Homo sapiens: one gene and its partners. The protein of the gene in region 1 purifies or fractionates together with the protein of each later gene. This does not show direct contact. Each region holds a gene or a part of one and is shown in the gene's direction. Other genes may lie near its edges.

The links.
Region 2: the proteins of SULT1A4 (region 1) and ULK4 fractionate together in Homo sapiens (co-fractionation; one large-scale study listed by BioGRID). This does not show direct contact.
Region 3: the proteins of SULT1A4 (region 1) and MPPED2 purify together in Homo sapiens (co-immunoprecipitation; one large-scale study listed by IntAct). This does not show direct contact.

Annotation. Positions count from the first base shown.
Region 1 is NC_000016.10:29,458,359-29,462,108, forward strand, and holds the start of SULT1A4 (sulfotransferase 1A4), read left to right. Parts: upstream 1-1,554; 5' UTR 1,555-1,627; intron 1,628-3,023; 5' UTR 3,024-3,027; coding exon 3,028-3,175; intron 3,176-3,279; coding exon 3,280-3,405; intron 3,406-3,494; coding exon 3,495-3,592; intron 3,593-3,750. UniProt on the Homo sapiens protein: Sulfotransferase that utilizes 3'-phospho-5'-adenylyl sulfate (PAPS) as sulfonate donor to catalyze the sulfate conjugation of phenolic monoamines (neurotransmitters such as dopamine, (R)-adrenaline/epinephrine, (R)-noradrenaline/norepinephrine and serotonin) and phenolic and catechol drugs.
Region 2 is NC_000003.12:41,899,456-41,903,105, reverse strand, and holds part of ULK4 (serine/threonine-protein kinase ULK4), read left to right. Parts: intron 1-2,276; coding exon 2,277-2,381; intron 2,382-3,650. UniProt on the Homo sapiens protein: May be involved in the remodeling of cytoskeletal components, such as alpha-tubulin, and in this way regulates neurite branching and elongation, as well as cell motility.
Region 3 is NC_000011.10:30,495,813-30,499,462, reverse strand, and holds part of MPPED2 (metallophosphoesterase MPPED2), read left to right. Parts: intron 1-3,650. UniProt on the Homo sapiens protein: Displays low metallophosphoesterase activity (in vitro). May play a role in the development of the nervous system.

The DNA of each region.
Region 1 (3,750 bases):
GAAACCCCATGCCTCAGCTTTCCCCTACTTGCCTCTGAGCTCATGCAATTCTTGGAAGCCTGGGAGACTTACCTTGAAATTGAATGCAAATAGGACAAAGACCAAGGAGGATGGGGGGATGCCCTCCTTCCACGGGGCCCTGTGGCTTCCAAGTCTTAATCTCCTCTAGTCTCTTGTCTACGGAGCCTCCTTCAAACCCAGGGAAAGAAAAGCACCTGCCAGGGTTGTTTTTCTTCTAGGATCTTCTATTGATGCTCTGTGAGGTCCCCCAGGAGCCATGAAGCTAGGGCTGGCTCCTAGGGCAATGGGACTACAGTGTCCTTGTCCTTTCTTATTCTTTCTGTTCTTTCTTTCTTTCTTTTTTTTTTTTTTTTTTTTTTTTTGAGACAGAGTCTCACTCTGTTGCCCAGGCTGGAGTGCAGTGGTGTGATCTTGGCTCACTGAAACCTCCGCCTCCTGGGTTCAAGTGATTCTCTTGCCTCAGCCTCCTGAGTAGCTAGGATTACAGGTGCCCGCCATCATGCCCAGCTAATTTTTGTATTTTTAGTAGAGACAGGGTTTCACCATGTTGGCCAGCTTGGTCTCGAACTCCTGACCTCAGGTGATCCTGCTGCATCGACCTCCCAAAGTACTGGGATTACAGGCGTGAGCCACCACGCTCAGCCTCTTTCTTGTTCTATATGTCCATGCTCTGCTCCACTTCTGCCCCTTCACTCTGCCCCCACACATCACTCCAGACTGGCCTTGTGGTCAGAGCCTGGAATGCCTGGGCTGCTGGGGGCCTGTGGACTGCACTGGGCCAGAACCCCTGCCGCCTTCAAGACTGGCCTGTAGCCAGCAGGTAGGTGACTTTTCCCAGGCCGGCCTATCCCACCTTTCCCCTCCACTCACTCACCTCCCTTGCCTGGGTCAATTAGAGAAAGCTTGTCGGCCAGGCATGGTGGCTCATGCCTGTAATCTCAGCACTTTGGGAGGCCGAGGCGGGCGGATCATCTGAGCTCAGGAGTTTGAGACCAGCCTGGCCAACATGGCAAAACCCCGTCTCTACTAAAAATACAAAAATTAACCGGATGTGGTGGTGTGCACCTGTAATCCCAGCTACTCGGGAGGCTGAGGCAGAAGAATCGCTTGAACCCAGGAGGGGGAGGTTACAGTGAGCGGAGATCGTGCTACTGCATTGCAGCCTGGGCGAGAGAGCGAGTCTCCATCTCATATAAAAAAAAGAAAAAGAAAGAAAGAAAGCTTGTCTGTTGGCCTGCCCTGCAGGGTGGAGTTCAGAGGGAAGGTCAGGAGCCTAGTGACAGCTCAAAAAAAAAAAAACCCAAATACCAATGTTGGCCCCTTTTGCCTTTCATTCATGTGTTTTCTATACACTAAACTCACATATTGGGTTTGCAGATCACTCCAAGCTTGGCTGGAGCTGTGGTGGTAAGGAGGGTAATAGAGAAGCTTCCCCACCCTCAACCCCACCCCTTCCTTCCTGGAGTTCCCAGCCCTGACTTTAGATCCCTCCCACACTGGACCTTCAAAACCCTCAGGGCAGAGAGCAGCCCTACACTCCCTACACCACACCCATACTCAGCCCCTGCAGGCAAGGAGAGAACAGGTCAGGTTCCCGAGAGCTCAGGTGAGTGACACGTTGGAATGGCCCAGGGCACCTTCACCCTGCTCAGCTTGTGGCTCCAACATTCTAGAAGCCGAGGCCTCTGCCATCCCTGCCCTTTCCCATGGATATTCCATTTCAATTAGACAACCCAGCCTGGCCGGAATCCCCCTGCGTTCCTTCTTTTCCTTTGTGTATTTTTGAGACAGGGTGTTGCTCCGTCACCCAGGCTGGAGTGTAGTGGGATCCTGGCCCACTGCAGCCTCAAATTCCTAGGCTGAGGCAATCCTGCCGCCTCAGCCTCCTGAGTAGCTGGGGTTACAAGAGCAAGCCACCACACCCAGCTAATTTTGAAAAATATTTTTTGTAGAGGAGAGGTCTTGCTTTGTTGTCCAGGTTGGTCTCAAACTCCAGGGCTCAAGGGATCCTTTCCCGTTGGCCTCCCAAGGCTCTGGGATTACAGGCGGGAGTCACCCTGCCTGGGCCCCTCCTTTTGATGAGTCATCAGTTTTCATTCCCGCACGAGGCTCTAGCCCCTGGTACCAGCTTAGTTGCTCAATGGGCTGTGTTTGTTCTGGAGCCCAGATGGACTGTGGCCAGGCAAGTGGATCACAGACCTGGCCGGCCTGGGAGGTTTCCACATGTGAGGGGCATGAGGGGGGCTCAAGGAGGGGAGCATCGGGGAGAGGAGCGCACTGGGTGGAGGCTGGGGGTCCCAGCAGGAAATGGTGAGACAAAGGGCGCTGGCTGGCAGGGAGACAGCACAGGCAGGCCCTAGAGCTTCCTCAGCACAGCTGGACTCTCCTGGAGACCTTCACACACCCTGATATCTGGGCCCCGCGCTACGAGGGTGCTTTCACTGGTCTGCACTATGCCCCAGGCCCTGGGATTTTGAACAGCTCTGCAGGTGACTGAAAGGTGCGGCCAGGCTGGGGAACGACCTGGTTTCAGCCCCAGCCCCGCCACTGACTGACTTTGTGAGTGCGGGCAAGTCACTCAGCCTCCCTAGGCCTCAGTGACTTCCCTGAAAGCAAAAACTCTGCAAAGGGGCAGCTGGGTGCTGGCTCACACCTGTAATCCCAGCACTTTGGGAGGCTGAGGTAGACAAATCACTTGAGGCCAGGAGTTCTAGACCAGCCTGGCCAACATGGTGAAACCCCATCTCTACTAAAGAAAAAAAAAAATTAGCTGAGCATGGTTGTACATGCTTGTAATCCCAGCTACTTGGGATGCCGAGGCGGGAGGATTGCTTGAACCCAAGAGGTGGAGTTTGCAGTGAGCTGAGATTGTGCCACACTGCACTCCAGCTTGGGTGAGAGTGAGACTCCATCTCAAAAAAAAAAAAAAAAAGAGAGAATCCCACTTTCTTGCTGTTGTGATGGTGGTAAGGGAACGGGCCTGGCTCTGGCCCCTGATGCAGGAACATGGAGCTGATCCAGGACACCTCCCGCCCGCCACTGGAGTACGTGAAGGGGGTCCCGCTCATCAAGTACTTTGCAGAGGCACTGGGGCCCCTGCAGAGCTTCCAAGCCCGACCTGATGACCTGCTCATCAACACCTACCCCAAGTCTGGTAAGTGAGGAGGGCCACCCACCCTCTCCCAGGCGGCAGTCCCCACCTTGGTCAGCAAGGTCGTGCCCTCAGCCTGCTCACCTCCTATCTCCCTCCCTCTCCAGGCACCACCTGGGTGAGCCAGATACTGGACATGATCTACCAGGGCGGCGACCTAGAGAAGTGTAACCGGGCTCCCATCTACGTACGGGTGCCCTTCCTTGAGGTCAATGATCCAGGGGAACCCTCAGGTGCATGGCTGGGTCCTGGGGGTAAGGGAAGTGGAGGAAGACAGGGCTGGGGCTTCAGCTCACCAGACCTTCCCTGACCCACTACTCAGGGCTGGAGACTCTGAAAGACACACCGCCCCCACGGCTCATCAAGTCACACCTGCCCCTGGCTCTGCTCCCTCAGACTCTGTTGGATCAGAAGGTCAAGGTGAGGCCGGGCTCAATGGTTCACACCTGTCATCCCAGTTTGAGACTGAGGAGGGAGGATCCCTTGAAGGCGAGAGATGGAGACCAGCCTGGGCAACATTGCTGTAGAGATGACATCCCATCTCTACAAAAATAAAATTAACAACCTGGTATGGTGGC
Region 2 (3,650 bases), on another chromosome or scaffold:
ATTGACTTCTTTTCTTTCCTTCTGCCCCCTTCCTCACTCAAGACACCATCCTTTCCATCCAGGCTTTGCAGTAACCTGCTAACTGGTCCCCTCAGTTCTCCATTGCTCCCCTCCATCCATTCTCCACTGAAGCAAGTATGATGTATATATTTAAGTGTCTTCATTAACTATCACTGTCTTCTCTCAAGCAGTGCCAGGCATTGTTTTAAGTGCTTTGTGTTTATTCTTCACAAACCTGAAAGCTTGTTTGTTTTAATCTTTGTTATAGATGAAGAAAACAAAGCTTTTTTTATCTTCCCTAAGAGCACATAATTAACAAGCAGCAATGTTAAGTTTGCCCCTGTCTTTTTGCCTTTAAAGTCCATCTTTTTTTTGGCAATGTGAGTTTACCTCTGTCTTTTTACCATGAAAGTCCATCTTTTTTTTTCTTTAATTGAAAGTCCATGTTCTTAAACTTAGATTTTCTTGTTTTAAACAAACTTCCTCTTCATTCTTTGTGGGCCTTTTTTTTTTTTTTCTTTTTTTTTTTTGGTGGAGTCTCGCTTTGTCACCTAGGCTGGTGTGCGATGGCGCAATCTCGGCTCACTGCAACCTCCGCCTCCCAGGTTCAAGCGATTCTCCTGCCTCAGCCCCCTAAGTAGCTGGGATTACAGGCGCCTGCCACCATGCCTGGCTAATTTTTGTATTTTTAGTAGAGATGGTGTTTCACCATGTTGGTCAGGCTGGTCTCGAACTCCTGACCTCGTGATGTGCCCACCTCGGCCTACCAAAGTGCTGGGATTACAGGCCTAAGCCACTGCACCCGGCCTCTTTTTGTGTTTTCTTGTCTTTTGTCTGAGTTGCATGGGGCAGCTTGGGTTTCCAGGAACTTTCTTAGCTAACTCCTCTGTTCCTTTATCCATGCCCCTTCCTCACTCAGTTTTGGGTAATTTATTTTCCTTATTCCTTACTTCACTGATTTACTTTTCTATTTTATTTAGTTTGCTAGCCGTTGTTTCTTTTAAAGTTCTTAAGCATAAATTCTCTCTCTCTTTTTTTTTTCCCTGTTGGGAAATACTGAGGCATAGCACTAGGAATACAAATTATGTTTAAATAGAGCACAAAGAACCATCTCAAAGGAATAACTGATGGTGAATATCTGCTGATTCATTTCATTATGTATCAACTCTAACTAGGCTTAATAAATAATTGAGGTTTAATACTTAGGTAGCATGTCTGTATTTAAGTCTGAAAATTTTTTTTATGTTACAGCTTCAATTTCACATTGAATGTTCTGTAAAGCAGAAATAAATTGATTAACATTCTGTGAATGAAAAATAAAGCCGTTGGTCAGGCGCGTGGCTCACGCCTATAATCCCAGCACTTTGGGAGGCCAAGTTGGGTGGATCACCTGAGACCAGGAGTTCGAGACCAGCCTGGCCAACATGGTGAAACCCCGATTCTACTAAAAATGCAGAAATTAGCAGTGCATGGTGGCATACACCAGTAATTCCACGACTTGGGAGGCTGAAGCAGGAGAATTGCTTCAACTCGGGAGGCAGAGGTTGCGGTGAGCTGAGATTGTGCCACTGCATTCCAGCCTGTGTGATGGAGTGAGACTCTATCTCAAAAAAAAAAAAAAAAAAAGGCTGGGCGTGGTGGCTCACGCCTGTAATCCCAGCACTTTGGGAGGCCGAGGCAGGTGGATCATGAGGTCAGGAGATTGAGACCATCCTGGCTAACACGGTGAAACCCTGTTTCTACTAAAAATACAAAAAAATTAGCCAGGCACAGTGGCAGGCGCCTGTAGTCCCAGCTACTCGGGAGGCTGAGGCAGGAGAATGGCGTGAACCCGGGAGGCAGAGCTTGTAGTGAGCCGAGATCACGCTACTGTACTCCAGCCTGGGGGACAGAGCGAGACTCCGCCTCAAAAAAAAAAAAAAAAAAAAAAAAAGAAGCCATGCTGTTATGGAAAAACCAATTTGCCTCATCACAGTTTAGAACATTGAATTGTAAAGATATTTTTTCTAGTCCTAGCCAGACTTAGTGGTAACATGAGCAATTCAGTTACTTTCTCAGAGTTTTATATTTTTATCTGTAAAATGGGAATGATGGTGCCTACAGTTTAGGATTTTTGTGAAAATCAAATGAGACTGCAACCATCTTGAATAGCAGTTGAAGTACATTGATATAGGTGATATTTTACAGTGGTGTCTTCCTCAGCATCTTACTGGTTCAGTGTTTTAAAGATCTACATTAGTCGCAGAAACAAAGTCTAATTTTTGTTCTCATTTCAGATTACAAGTGGACACCTGAGTCAGCAGGACCTGGAATCCCAGATGAGAGAGCTTATCTACACGGACTCAGATCTTGTTGTCACCCCCATTATCGACAATCCAAAGGTGCAGAAAGACACTCTAACAACTGAGTTGTAGACTTTACTGAGATCTGAAATCTGCATGAGATTTTCATTCAGAATATTATTTACTGTATAATCTTTCCTGTTTCTCTTGTCTGCTTCTGTGTCATTTGTGCTGCATGTCTGCATTTGCAGCTCCCCCTCTGTCTGCAGCCCTTTCCTCTGCCTTCACTTCCACTTCACTGGAGTTCTAAGTTTTCTCCCCTCTGTTTTGAATGAGTCAGCTCTGCTGCCTCTCACTACTGCTTCTTCCACATGCCATGGAGGGGTTGCCAGCCTCTTGACCTCAGACCTTAGCTCTCAGTCCTTTTGTTTCTCCGTATGCACTAATGTGAATCACTCTAAATATTCTAGTCTCTGATGTATTTCGAAGGCACAAGCAGTCAGAGGGCACTGCTTACCAGGCTGGGCTGGGCAGGCAGATCACACAGAAGCCCTACCCTCTCACAGGTTGTTAAGACTGCAGGGGAGACGATGGGGAGACATTCTGGGAGCTTGCGAAGTTGTAGTTCACAATGTACTTCTAAACCAGTGTGAGTTTTTTTGCTTCTTGTCTTTTGGAATATAATACTTTATTGCTAGGGGATAATGAGTATCTACTTTAAAAAACAAATTCATTTCTAAGTCCCTCTGTTTTGTCTTGACTTCCAGCTCCCCAACATACTCACATTCCACTACTTTTTCTCTATTTTAATTTTCCTGCTTCTTTTTCTTATTTATAAATGTTTTTTTCTGTATTAATTCATGACTCTTTTTTCTTATCTCATTGGGAACGTTACTGTGGTTTAGACCATGAAGGTTCTTGAATTCTTATTTATTTTCTAGATAGACAGCATTTCATATAGATTATTTAGCTATTTTTCATAATGGAGCTACTTCTTTTTGTGAGTTCATATGTCTGGCAGAGTAACTTTATTATGCTAAGTTTGATGAGCATTGGGGCATTTTCAACGTGGGCTTTCTAGAACAATTTGTGTTATCTTTACCAGGGGTGTCCAATCTTTTGGCTTCCCTGGGCCACATTGGAAGAAGAATTGTCTTGGGGCACACATAAAATACACTAACGATAGCTGATGAACTAAAAAACAAAAAAAATTGCAAAAAAAAATCTTACAATGTTTTAAGAAGGTTTACAAATTTGTGTTGGGCCACTTTCAAAGCCGTCTTGGGCTGCATGCAGCCCATGGGCTACGGGTTGGACAGGCTTGCTTTAGACAATATTCTGTGTTTCTTTTTTTCCCTCTTATAACCA
Region 3 (3,650 bases), on another chromosome or scaffold:
CCAAAGTGTTCCAAAATCTGAAACATTTTGAGCACTGACATGACACTCAGTGAAAATGTTCATTGGAGCATTTCAGATTTTGGATTTTGGGATTTGGAATGTTCAATCAGTGTAACACAAATATTCCAAAATCTGAAAAAATCCAAAATCCTAAATGATTCTGGTCACAAGCATTTCAGATAAAGGATGCTCAACCTCTGTTAGAAAGATAAGAAGATGCAAACAGATGGTGTGATGGGAAAGTGAAAAGGCAGAAGTGAAGAGAACCTCCCTCCTTCTGTACACATGTGGTTAGAGGGTATTTTGCATGTCTGGAGAGGGGCTCAGTTGGAGCCTGGGAGCTAGAGAGGAACCTGGACAAATTTTGTGATGGCTGCTTTGGGGAGGTAGTGGCTGGAGTGTGGGGCACTTAGAACGTCAAGTAGCAGCGAGGACCCTGTTGACTTTCAGTTCATGAGTATCTACTTATGTGACACCACTAAGTGCAGAAGATACAGAATAGATAAAACTCAAATAACTGCCTCTTTTATGGTCTCACTTACATTCTGTAGCTCTAACCTGAACTGATGAGCAAGTTTTCCACATCTCATTAATTCACTTCCTACCATTGTCACTTTATTGTCCCTGTAAGTTACCTCTACTATTTGCTCAGTAATTTTCTTGAAATTACCTCTTATTTTACATATAAAGATAGAAAAAAGGAAGCTATATATCATTACTTATACTTTTATATTGTATTTGTCCAAACAATGCATTCTTAAAAGTAGTTTTAAAATACAAAACTATTTGACATTTTGTCAAAGGTTCCTTTCCATTTCACCTAAAATAATCTTGTGTACCATTAGTAGAACATAGACCATGCCTTGGGAACGATGAAACTGGTTGGTTGGTAGCGTTCTTTTTTTTTTTTTTTTTGAGACAAGTTTTGCTCTTGTCACCCAGGCTGGAGTACAGTGGTTCAATCTCGGCTCACAGCAACCTGCACCTCCGGGGTTCAAGCAATTCTCCTGCTACCACACCCGGCTAATTTTTGTATTTTTAGTAGAGATAGGGTTTTATCACATTGGCCAGGCTGGTCTCAAACTCCTGACCTCAGGTGATCTGCCTGTCTTGACCTCCCAAAGTGCTGGGATTCCGGGTGTGAGCCACCGTGCCCGGCTGGTAGAGTTCTTTGGGTCATTCAGAGCAAGGATTTTTTTTCCATGTTAGAGTATATATATGGCCTTGGTTTTTTTTATACAAGCAGGTCAGCTTAGCTGGCATGATCTGAATAAAATGGAAAAAGGCAGGCACCTCTTTGCCTGACAATTTTAAAGTGTTGCTATTTGAATACCAAGAAGTTTGAAGCTTGACTGCAGGGCCTTCCCAATTAATCTAGTCTGGAAAAAAAAAAACAACGAAAATGCCGTCAAGTAACAGGAGATTTGTCAGCTGCCCTGTTTACACTTTTCATATAAAACATAAAGGTTGGCAGATTATAGATGAAAGGTCAGTTCAGCAAAAAAGAAAATATGTCAGACAATCTCATAACATCGGTAACAGAGGATAGAAGTTGGAAGCTACTACTGGATTCTCGGAAAAAGATGAGTTTGTTGGTGATGTGTAAATATCATCACCTTTTTTGTGGCTCTTCATTTTGGTGGCTACCTTTTTATGCTGAGTCTCCAAAATTTGATTTAAAAGACACCAAAGATGCTTGTCTTTCTGAGAAAGATTTACTTTGCAGCAGTTTTACTAAAAAGAAAGAAAGAAAGAAAGAAAGGAAAAACCCAGTCTGAAGGGGGAAAATATACTTCCTTTGCCATAGTGGCTAGTCTCACCCACGCTGTCCCTGAACCCGAGCCCTAAAACGAGGATAAATTGAGAAACCCAGGCTTCCTGCAAGAGCGGTGGCACATAATGAAAGGGTTTACAGTGAGTCCCATCATCGTGAATGATTAAAGGGGAACTGGGCAACTACAGTGTGACTTGTACAGGTAAAATCTTCTGCTCTAAGAATCACACAGTAAGGACCGGCCTTGGAAGACATTGCTGTCTGGGAAAACGTTTTAGCCTGTTCCGGCTTTGGGAGCACAGGTGAATTGGGGCGGGGAGCACTATTAGACTCATAGGGTCACAGAGCCATGATATTAGAGTTGTAGGGTCTCTCACAAATTTCCAGCATGTGCAGTACTGGGAATTTGTGGCCCTATTGATATATCTTTCATCTGCACTTGAAGTTCTGGAATTGTGCAAGATACCACCATTCTATCCAAACAACTTGCTATGTACATCATACTCTTAATTACCAAATTCGCATAAACATGCATTTGAGGGAGGCTTCCTATTCTTTTTTGAACTCTTCAGCATAGCCTTACAAATAACTGAGGCCAAAGACGTGACATACAGCACTGTGGGCTAGTAGTCAAAGATATCCATTGCTGCTTGGCCTCAGCGTTTCTGGTTTCCTCTCTCTGCAGTGTTATTTTCTATCAGACTGCTTTCATCTCTCTCTTAAGCCTCCCCATTATTGCCCTTGCTATATATGCAATTTTATTATTGTCAGAAATCTAACAATTAATAACTAAAGAAAAGGCAGTAATATACAAAACATGGTTTGGCAGTCTTAAAAACTGCTTCAATATTAGCAAATATGTTTGTGATGTGCTGCTGAGACTGTGTGGACTTCACAATGTAATCTTTACAGTTTGAATTGCTGAAATCCAAGTGGACTGACGATGGAACTTGCTCCCCTCACCTCCCCCCACCCCCCGCCCACAAAATTCTCTTCCCCACTAAGTTTCCTTAATGAAATCATTGAGACTCTGGCTTGCTGGTAAGGACCAGTTCTTACAACAAGTGTATCCAATTTCCTGCTAGTGGTAACTTTAATTCTTCCTGGAATAGCAGGAAACATTAATTTCACATCAGACCCATAGGTCTCAGAAAGCTGGAATTATAGGTGCCATTGTCCCACTCTTTTTTTCCTCCAAAATAAAATAAAATAAAAAGCAGCAGATGAACAGTGAGGCTTGAGGGATGGGTAGTGACAGAGTAAGGAAAAGAACATTAATTTCAGGTGGGGACAGCTGCCCGGCACTATCTCCCTTTGGATTTTCGTTCTTATAGCATCACGGTGAGTTATTAATATGTATGACCCGTACTTTATTCAAACATTATAAATCTATGCAGAAGTCTGGTGTTTGGGTTTTCCTTTATAGCTTTCATTCTTCTTCCCAGAATTATCTCATTTTGATCAGGAAACTTTTGCATAAAAAGCACACACTGAGAACTCACATTTCCATACCATAAATATTAAAAGAGGGTTAAACTTTACAGTTTCTTCTCCCATCCCAATAGGAGGAAAGTTAGCCTTCTAATCAGGGGGCCCTTACTAATGTTCTTTTTATTCACAACCCAAAAAGGAAACTTAAAATTAGAGTTGAAATATGAAATTATACTATCTGGTTCCTTTAATGTATGTCAATTATGGAATGTTTGACTATGCCATGTCTTTAGTATGAAGCATATACTAAAAATCTAGTAGTTATCTAAGTTGTTAAGAATAGTTGGTTAGATTATGTTTTGAGGACCAAACTAGGTACAGACCTTCTCTTAAGGATCGTGATTAAAGAGCTTTTTACTGGATAAATATAAAGTGTGGATTCATT